Homo sapiens: one gene and its partner. The protein of the gene in region 2 purifies or fractionates together with the protein of the main gene of each other region. This does not show direct contact. Each region holds a gene or a part of one and is shown on either strand. Other genes may lie near its edges.

Region 1 (5,002 bases), on a different chromosome or scaffold from region 2:
TGGGTTGAAGCCGGAAGGCGGAGGCTACAGTGAGATGAGATCACGCCACTGCATTCCAGCCTGGGCAACAAAGTGAGACTGTCTCAGGAAAAAAAAAAAAAAAAAAAGCCACAATGGCTGGGCGCAGTGGCTCATGCCTATAATCCCGGTACTTTGGGAGGCCAAGGCAGGTGGATCACTTGAGGCCAGGAGTTCAAGACCAGCCTGGCCAACATGCTGAAACCCCATCTCTACTAAAAATACAAAACTAGCCATACGTGGTGACTCACGCCTGTAATCCCAGAACGTTGGAAAGCTGAGGTGGGCAGATTGCCTGTGCTCTGGAGTTTGAAACCACCCTGGGCAACATGGTGAAACCTTGTCTATACTAAAATACAAAAAATTAGTTGGGCATGGGGGTGCACGCCTACAATCCCAGCTACTTGGGAGGCTCAGGCAGGAGAATCGCTTAAGCCCAGGAGGCAGAGGTTGCAGTGAGCCAAGACTGTGCCACTGTACTCCAGCTCGGGCAACAGAGTGAGACTCTGTCTCACACAAACACACACACACACACACACACACACAAAAAACATAGGCCGGGCACAGTGGCTCACGCCTGTAATCCCAACACTTTGAGAGGCCAAGGTGGGTGGATCACGAGGTCAGGAGTTTGAGACCAGCCTGGCCAATAAGGTGAAATCCCTTCTCTACTAAAAATACAAAAATTAGCCAGGCATGGTGGTGCATGCCTGTTATCCCAACTACTCAGGAGGCTAAGGCAGGAGAATCACTTGAACTTGAGAGCCGGAGGTTGCAGTGAGCCAAGATCGCGCCACTGCACTCCAGCCTGGGCAATAGAGCAAGACTCTGTCTCAAAATAAATAAATAAATAAATAAATAAATAAATAAATAAATAAATAAATAAAATAAAAACACAAAAATTAGCCGGGTGTGGTGGTGCATGCCTGTAATCCCAGCTACTTGGGAGGCTGAGACACGAGAATCACTTGAGCCCAAAATCACACCATGGCACTCCAGCCTGGGTGGCAGAGCAACACTCCATCTCAAAAAAAAAGAAAGAAAAAATATTTCTCAATCTTAGGTTAAGTTCTAACTTAAATCAATCTAACATGGTAAAACCCCATCTCTACTAAAAATACAAAAACTAGCTGGGTGTGGTGGTGCGGGCCTGTAGTCCCAGCTACTTGGGAGGCTGAGGCAGTGAGCCGAGATTGCACCACCTGCACTGCAGCCTGGGTGGTAAAGCGAGACTCTCGTCTCAAAAAAAGAAAAGAAAGACAGTGCCCTGGGAACAAGGAGAAACTTGAAATGAGGCGGAGCTAGTACAAAGGCCACATCCTCCTGCAAATCCTCCAAGACTTTTGGAGCCAGATTTCCTCTCTATCACTTGTAGTCACAGGGTGACCTTGAGCAAGCTAGTTAACCCAGCTGGGCCTCAGGTCTATCATCTGCAAAACAAGGCTGAGTTGTTCTGCCAGCCCCGAGTTATTGCAAATGATTTACACAGAAGCTCTTTGTGAGCTGGTTACACAGATAATCTTATATTCTCCTTCAAAGCAGGTCGTTCCCAAATGATTTGCCTAAATTTGGTATTTCCTAAGCAGATTTTCCCCCTCCAATGGCTAATGGAAAGCAATGTCTTTGTCATCGGAGATATGGTCAAAAATTGCAATTCAGATACATGACAATTCCTTGCTTTCATACAGCACTTTATGGTCAATACAACGCTTCCAAATTCTTATTTCATCTTCGTGACATCACTAAAATATGGCTAGAGTCATAGCCAGTCCTGGAAGAAATCCCCAAAGTCCCCATTCTTAATCTCTCAGTGCCTGGGTTTCCATGTCACCCATGCATTGTAGAAGACAATATGGTAGATATACCAGAGGAGAAGTTTGAGTCGGGCTGACCCGGATTCTAATACCAGCAACAGCCACTTGCTATGTGACCTGGAATAAGACAATTTCTCTGAGCCTCAGTTTCCTCTTCAGTAAAGTGGGAACAATTTCTATGTCTCAAAGAGTTCTTGTGAGGACAGATGATCATGTATCAGCAGTGTTTGGGGCACAGCAAAGGCAGCATAACAGCTAAACATCCATTACCTTACTTAACTCATCCCATTTTACAGATGAGAAAACTAGGGCTGAGGCCGGGCCAGTGGCTCATGCCTGTTATGCCAGTACTTTGGGAGGCCGAGGTGGGTGGATCACCTGAGATCAGAAGTTCGAGACCAGCCTGGCAAACATGGTGAAACCCCATCTTTACTAAAATTACAATAATTAGCCGGGCTTGGTAGTGGGCGCCTGTAACCCCAGCTACTCGGGAGGCTGAGGCAGGAGAATCGCTTGAACCCGGGGGGCGGAGGTTGCAGTGAACCAAGATGGCGCCACTGCACTCCAGCCTGGGCAACAGAGCGAGACTCCGTCTCCAAAAAGATAATAATAATAAATAAATAAAAATAAAAAAATTTAAAAAGAAAACTAAGGTTGAAAGGGTCTATCATTTGCCCTAAGGTCTAACTGTGGTAAAGGAGTCCAAGTCCGTGCATTTAAACAAGCTGGTACGACTTGGCTGCAGGCTCTGGCCTCCCCTCTCCATGATAATAAAAGTGTTCCCCAGTACCTCATTTTATTATTCACCAATAAGCGTTCCGAGTCATGGGAAGTTTCCATTCAGAAATTACCCAGTGAGAGAAGACTGGGGTGACTGGCTCAGAGCAGGAAGACTTTCTAAAAAAACCATCATCACCATCGTTACTGAAAGGAGACTCAAGGGTCAGTGTGGCCCTCAGCGCAGACGTCGGGGGACCCCGGCTGAGGGTCGGGGGCGACCAAAGCGCGGCCACTGGTCCTCTGAGGCCCCGCCCCTCGCCCGGGCTGCCCCGCCCCGGGCCCCCGCGCCGCTCGCGCCGCTCACCGTGCACCTCCTTGCCCGTGGGCCCGAGCCGCCGGTGGGGCCTGGCAGCGCGCCTCAGCCGGCCAGCGGGTATCTTGCAGCGCAGCTCGTCGCGCGGCTCCGCATCCTGCTGCCACAGGACGTGCAAGTAGCGCAGCGGCGACTGGGCCCCGCCGGACGCCCGGCCCGAGAGGCCCGCGCCGCCGCCGCCCAGCGCAGACCCGAAGTCAGCGAAGGAGAAGAGGCCCTCAGCGTCAGTCAGCGGCTCCGGCGCCACCGCGCACTCGCCCTCCGAGCTCGAGTGGCCTGAGCGCGGCTCGTCGTCCGCGTCCCCGGCGGCGGCTGCCATGGCAACGGCTCCGCGCGGGCCTGGCCGCCTGAGCCTCGTTCCCGACCGACCAACGGACCTACTTCCCTCCGCCCTGAGTCGTGCTGTCAGCGAGCTGGCGGGCGGGCAGGGCCCGCAACCACGGCAACCGAGCGGGGGCGGGCTCAGGCCGAGACAGAGCGGCGAACCAATGACTACCCTTCCAGCTTAAACCGGTCCCAAAACCAATCGGAAAGGGAGGGCACAGTACAAGCAGGATAATTGGACAGGGTTTCCGGCAACGTGACTGACAGACATTGTAACCAATTACAAACTTGAAGTGACCTTGGCTTTCGCTGTACGTCGCTACCGGAGCCAGTAAAACAGCATTTCAGACGCTTTTTTTTTGCGACGGAGTCTCGCTCTGCCGCCAGGCTCGCGATCTCGGCTCACTGCAACCTCCGCCTCCTTGAAGCAATTCTCCTGCCTCAGCCTCCCGAGTAGCTGGGACTACAGGCGCGCGCCACCACGCCCAGCTAATTTTTGTATTTTTAGTAGAGACGGGGTTTCACCATGTTGGCCAGGATGGTCTCGATCTCTTGATCTCGAGATGTGCCGGCCTCGGCCTCCCAAAGTGCTGGGATTACAGGCGTGAGCCACCGCGCCCGGCCTTTTTTTTTCTTTTTCCTCTCCATTTCCCAGTCTAATGAGAAAACAAGCAGATACCTTAGCAAATCAGATTAAGATGATTTGCAGGCACTCACAAAGGAAAATGAAGAAGCCACGCCATCCATGTAGATATAGATGTTGTAAATCAATGAACGCAAAAAAAAAAAAAAAAAAGAACTTCCCACAAATGCATAATGTACGTGGGAAAGGGAAAATGTGTTGAAATTTGGAGATACCACTACAAACTGTGAGTAATAGTGTCTAAATGCAATGGATTTCCTTTAGTCAGAGTTCTCTAGGTAACCCCGACGTAGATGACTGATCTACAAAGATTTGTAATACAAAGTGATTACATTAGAGCAATAGTTTAGTTCGACAGCCAGTCACTGAGCCAGGTAACTGCTAGGTCCTGGACACAGGATCAGACTTGGTGCCCCTGAGATGCTCACAATCCAATGGGAGAAGACCAGGAAACAAATAAGTGTTCCTCAAGCAACATTTCATGGGTGCACGTTTTCATAAAACTTCTCACAATCCCGTACCCCACAAGCACTTCTATAAAGTAGACAAGAAGGACCATCCCTATTTTATAGGTGAGGAGTTGAAAAGCAGAGGGAAGAGACTCATTCACAGTTGCCCAGCTCTCACCGGACCAGGTCTTGTGTCCTGGCAAAAGTTCTTTCCATATATAAACCCTCCCACTCAACCCAGTTAAAATGTAATCTTTCCGCACGGTGGGTCACGCCTGTAATCCCAGCACTTTGGGAGGCCAAAATGGGCAGATGACAAGGTCGGGAGTTCAAGACAAGCCTGGCCAACATGATGAAACCTCGTTTCTACTAAAAATACAAAAATTAGCTGGGTGTGGTGGCGCACGCCTGTAATCCCAGCTATTCAGGACACTGAGGCAGGAGAGTAGCTTGAACCTGGGAGGCAGAGGTTGCGGTGAGCTGAGATCGCACCATGGCACTCCAGCCTGGGTGACAGAGCGAGACTCCATCTCAGAAAGAAACAAAAACAAAAAAAAGGCCTGGCGCTGTGGCTCACGCCTGTAATCCCAGCATTTTGGGAGGCTGAGGCAGGCAGATCACGAGGTCAGGAGATTGAGACCATTCTGGCTAACATGGTGAA
Region 2 (4,481 bases):
GTTATAATTAGAAGTGCTAATACTTTTGTTGAAGTTCAAAAATTCAAACACTGGGCAAAATGCCACCACTCTGCACCTCCTCCTTGCCTCCATCTGCTGTGTTCTCTAGGGCCAGGCTGGCCAGGAAAATACCAGCATTTGACTCCCACGAGATAAACAATGTCAGCTGTGGACAGTATACACCCCATAACCATACTGAAGACCACAGTGGGGGTGGCCCTAGTGACTCTGAGACTACTCAATTGCTCTATTGGTGAAACAGGACCCCTGTTTTTCTCTATTACTAAATGACACCACTGACTTCAGGTTTCGTTCCTGAAATACTCACAGTTTTTCCAGAAGAACCTTGTATTGTTCGTCTCCTCTGCCCCCTTCTACCTCCTGGTCCAGCTTTGTGATCAGCTCATTCTCAAACTGAAAGTAGAGGCAGAATTTCACAGGATAATGTTGCATCCTTAGAAGAAGACATGGCCAACTTTCTAGACTTGGCCAACCCATTCGCTGAGTTGTGAACTGTTTCCAGCACAGACAGGGAGGATCACAGAGGGTCACTCATAAACTGTGCACCAAGGCCCTATCAAAATCTTCTAACAAAGTCTCATGTTACTTTGTCCTTTGCATTACATTTGATTAAAAACATATTATCCAAAACATTGCTTTCTGTTACAACTATTCATATAAAAATAGAATAATAATTCTTGTTTTTCTATTTTACTTCAGTTTCATGTCTAAGTCTCTGCAGTGAGATTGCTTTTGCAGAGGTTCATAGATGCGAAATCGTCCTTTCAATATTAATACACTTTGTAGATAAGAAAACAGAGGCACAGAGAAGACATACCAGGAAAATGACATTCTCAAAGCTACAGAGTAATGGATTAGAACTTAATCCATTGCACTGCTTTCAGCCGTACTATAATAGATAGGTTTTTAAATTCAATTCACTACATTATTCTCTAGGCTATACTGAAACAGCTAGGATTAAAATGCATGAAGTTAACTTCCTTTAATTTTCTACAGACAGGTGTTGCCTTAGGAAAGACATGTAGCAAAAAAATCTTTTCCAGGCTCTGGGTTGCACTGTCTGACTCTATCTCTAATTGCTTTATAAAATGAAATGTAAAGTGAACTTTCAGATCAACATGGACTTGCATTATTAAGGTTACTGCTTCTCTATATAGAAAGAAATGAGTTATGATTTGACTATATGTCCATTTACTAATATTACGCGGTCTGCCACTTCTTACCATATGGAAATTGCCATTTCCACTGAAATTGAACTCACACTGCATCATATCAAAGAAAATGGGGATTGTGGCTTTCCGGAGCTCTACTTCAGGGGTCAGAGTGACCTCCAGAATGGGACCCACCATGGATGGGATGAATTTGATTTTGTGGGGACCTGAAATGAAAGTGAATGAAGATATTAAAAAATTATTTCACTGAAAGTAAAGTGTTAAAATCTTCCTCCACAAGTTCCATAAGAAAAGAAAAGGTTAAAACAACTCAATTCAGAAGTGAGTGACTCAGATTCTGATAGCATGTGGATGCCAGAGTAAGAGACAGTTCATTGTCAATGAAACCCACAAATCAACTTTCACTTCCAGACACACAGACAAATACATCTCAGGGTTATCTGGATTAAAATAAAAAAAAGACTTTATCGTGGGATGCTTATCACTCAGAGGTTGTGATCAGGCCTGTTCAAGGCTAGACACTCACCCAGGTTATACCACATGTCCCGGATTCTAAAGCCGATTTCCTTTCTCATGTCCCCATATCTAGGAAGAAGATCATAAACTAGAAGGAGGATTTTCAGTAGAAATGAATTGCATAAACACAATAAGAAGGAAAGTAAAAACAGTCTGTGTCTCTCTTGGTCACTCTTAAGGCCCAACCTTAAGAGATGAGGTTCATACCTAAACGAGCCCCCAAAAGGAATGAGGCGCACAGAGGCCGGGGGACCTTGTGCCGCAATAAAGCCAAATGGAAACGCTGAAAAATAGCTGAGAAGATGAGATTAACAAACTCACTTCAGGGAGAAGAGTGAGGCACAGACAAAGCCAAACAAAACACGGCAAACACTGATGAAAAGGAAGGTGAATGAAGTATGATCATACAGTACTGTGACTAATGCCTAACAGGTGACTAAATACTTATATACTTTATAGACTGATATTGGGGTAATATACATCCATTCTAGCGTGTTTTTCAAAATATTCACATTGGAAGGCTCTACACCATGCACTCTCAATGGGAGTGATACTGTCCACAAAGGGATAAATATTGGTCCTTGGGAGCAAAAAATACTTTGCTGTTTTTGTATATGTAGGCAGTTTTTGAGGGAGGAACCAGAAGTAGAGGGACACTAAATAATTTTCCTACATATCGCAGATATCCCAACAAGGGGAACACAACTAAAATTTCAAAGTCTTCAAATAATACATTCCTCAAGTTATTTTTTAACGACATGGTCTTTGGATTCCAGTCTCTCAATGAAATGAAATGCTTCCCTAAATCTCTTATCACTTCTGCACATAATTCCATTTTGAATTCCAAACCAGGAATCTGGAGGGCATTTTAATGCAATGTCTGAGACCTGGCTTTCTCTGCTGAAATGGCAGGGAGGTGGAGCAACTGTGCTGAAGGAGTGTGCTTTGTGAAGCGCTATGAATGAGGAGGTACTATGCCTGCAATTTGGGGAAGCTGCCAGCAGAGGCGCAGCTGTTCTTGGGGATGGGCAAGCTGACAGCCAAGGTCCGTCTCCAGGTACAGATTTGATAAAAAGCATGGGATGACTGATGGGAAGATGGTTGGGCCTTAAGAAAAGAGAGCTGAACCTGGGTGAATGTGAGGCCTATTAAGTAATTAGTTGAAGACTTACCTCACTAACAACATGGGTAGCCACTAAATAGTAATTTCTGTGATACCTAAAATATTGCTCTCAATGTAAACAAATGGAAGAAGCCCCTTCCCGATCTTAACTTTAAAAGGACACTTACTTTTTAACAATTTTGTTGCGCTTGGCTTGTGAGAAGGTTTCAAGCTGAAGGGACTCATGGGTGAGAAATGCAACTGCCAAATGGAAGTAATTGTTCCAGAGCTGTTCAAAATTAATTGTGTGGGTAAAGGGAAATGAAAAATAACATTAATAAGGGCCATAATAAAACAATGTCACATGGTAAAAAGTCATTAACAAGAGATTAATGAAAGAACAAAATACAATCTACATTCTTCTTAGGTTTTGATTATTCAATCCTAAAAGTTTTGAGACTTAATGTTAAGCTTTTTAAAAAAATTTAAGCTATTATATTTTTCTTTACTCCTGGGATAAAGGAAAACTGCTGCCAAGAAGTGTATCTATTTATAGTATGTACTTTGGCACTATGTTTCAAAAGTCCTAAAAGTTTGCCAAACTTTTGAATTAGTAAACACTTTTAGGACTTTATCCTGATGAAATAACCATGAATTTTGTTGTTGTTGTTTGATCCAGAGTCTCACTCTGTTGCCCAGGCTGGAGTACAGTGGTACAATCTCGGCTCACTGCAACCTCCGCCTCCCAGGTTCAAGCGTCCTGCCTTATCCTGACGAGTATCTGGGATTACAGGCACCCACTACCAGGCCTAGCTAGTTTTTGCATTTTTAGTAGAGATGGAGTTTCGCCATGTTGGCCAGGCTGGTCTTAAACTCCTGACCTCAGGTGATCTGCCCGCCTTGGCCTCCCAAAGTGCTGAGACTATAGGCGTGAGCCACCGTGCCCAGCCAAGCACGAATATTTTTAAATATTTAAAGGAAGGAAGTCCATCACAGTGTTATTTAATATAATAGAAAATGGAAACAATCTAAATGTTCGTAAGAAGAATTTGGTTAAATACATCATGGACCAGTCATAGAACAGATGATATTCAGCCATTAAAAACAGGAAAATATTCAACATTATTGAAAAGATCACAGATCATTGAAAAAGGAAAACAGATTAACAGAGTACCAAAGAACTGCACAGCTCAATTCCATTTTGGCAAATATACATACACATACATACAATATATATTCATCTATATGTGCATGCATCTCTGTGTGTGTATGTGTGTATACTTTCCTCTACTTATGATTTTCAACTTTTAAAGTTCTGAGGCAGGAAAACAGGGCCTGGAGGCAGGGCACTGAAGGCCAATTCACACTGACTTCCTAGAACTGAATCAAAAGGAAAACCCCACCTCTCCACACCCAAGTAACAAAAGGATCAGAGGCTACCCCTTTGCACTCTGTGGCAGATGAAAAATTGAAAGTACCTCTGATTAGTCCCCTCCCACAATTGGTGGGAGGGTCAGACTGGTCACATGCTACTCCTTCATTTACATAGGGTGTAACCAAGTAACCAATGGGAAAACTTCTACAGGGTATTTAAACGCCAGAAAATTCTGTAACCAGTGCTCTTGAGCTACTTGCTTGAGCCTGCTCCCACTCTGTGGAGTATACTTTCA

Evidence for each region. Proteins that work in one complex are often made in the same cells at the same time.
Region 1: the proteins of DOCK5 (region 2) and ANKRD54 purify together in Homo sapiens (affinity purification with mass spectrometry; 3 studies listed by BioGRID and IntAct, with this or other methods). This does not show direct contact.

What each region holds. Positions count from the first base shown.
Region 1 is NC_000022.11:37,840,995-37,845,996, forward strand, and holds the start of ANKRD54 (ankyrin repeat domain-containing protein 54), read right to left. Parts: upstream 3,341-5,002; 5' UTR 3,245-3,340; coding exon 2,917-3,244; intron 2,855-2,916; exon of another isoform or gene 2,623-2,854; intron 1-2,622. UniProt on the Homo sapiens protein: Plays an important role in regulating intracellular signaling events associated with erythroid terminal differentiation.
Region 2 is NC_000008.11:25,365,489-25,369,969, reverse strand, and holds part of DOCK5 (dedicator of cytokinesis protein 5), read right to left. Parts: intron 3,101-4,481; coding exon 3,000-3,100; intron 1,779-2,999; coding exon 1,720-1,778; intron 1,400-1,719; coding exon 1,245-1,399; intron 415-1,244; coding exon 329-414; intron 1-328. UniProt on the Homo sapiens protein: Guanine nucleotide exchange factor (GEF) for Rho and Rac. GEF proteins activate small GTPases by exchanging bound GDP for free GTP. Along with DOCK1, mediates CRK/CRKL regulation of epithelial and endothelial cell spreading and migration on type IV collagen.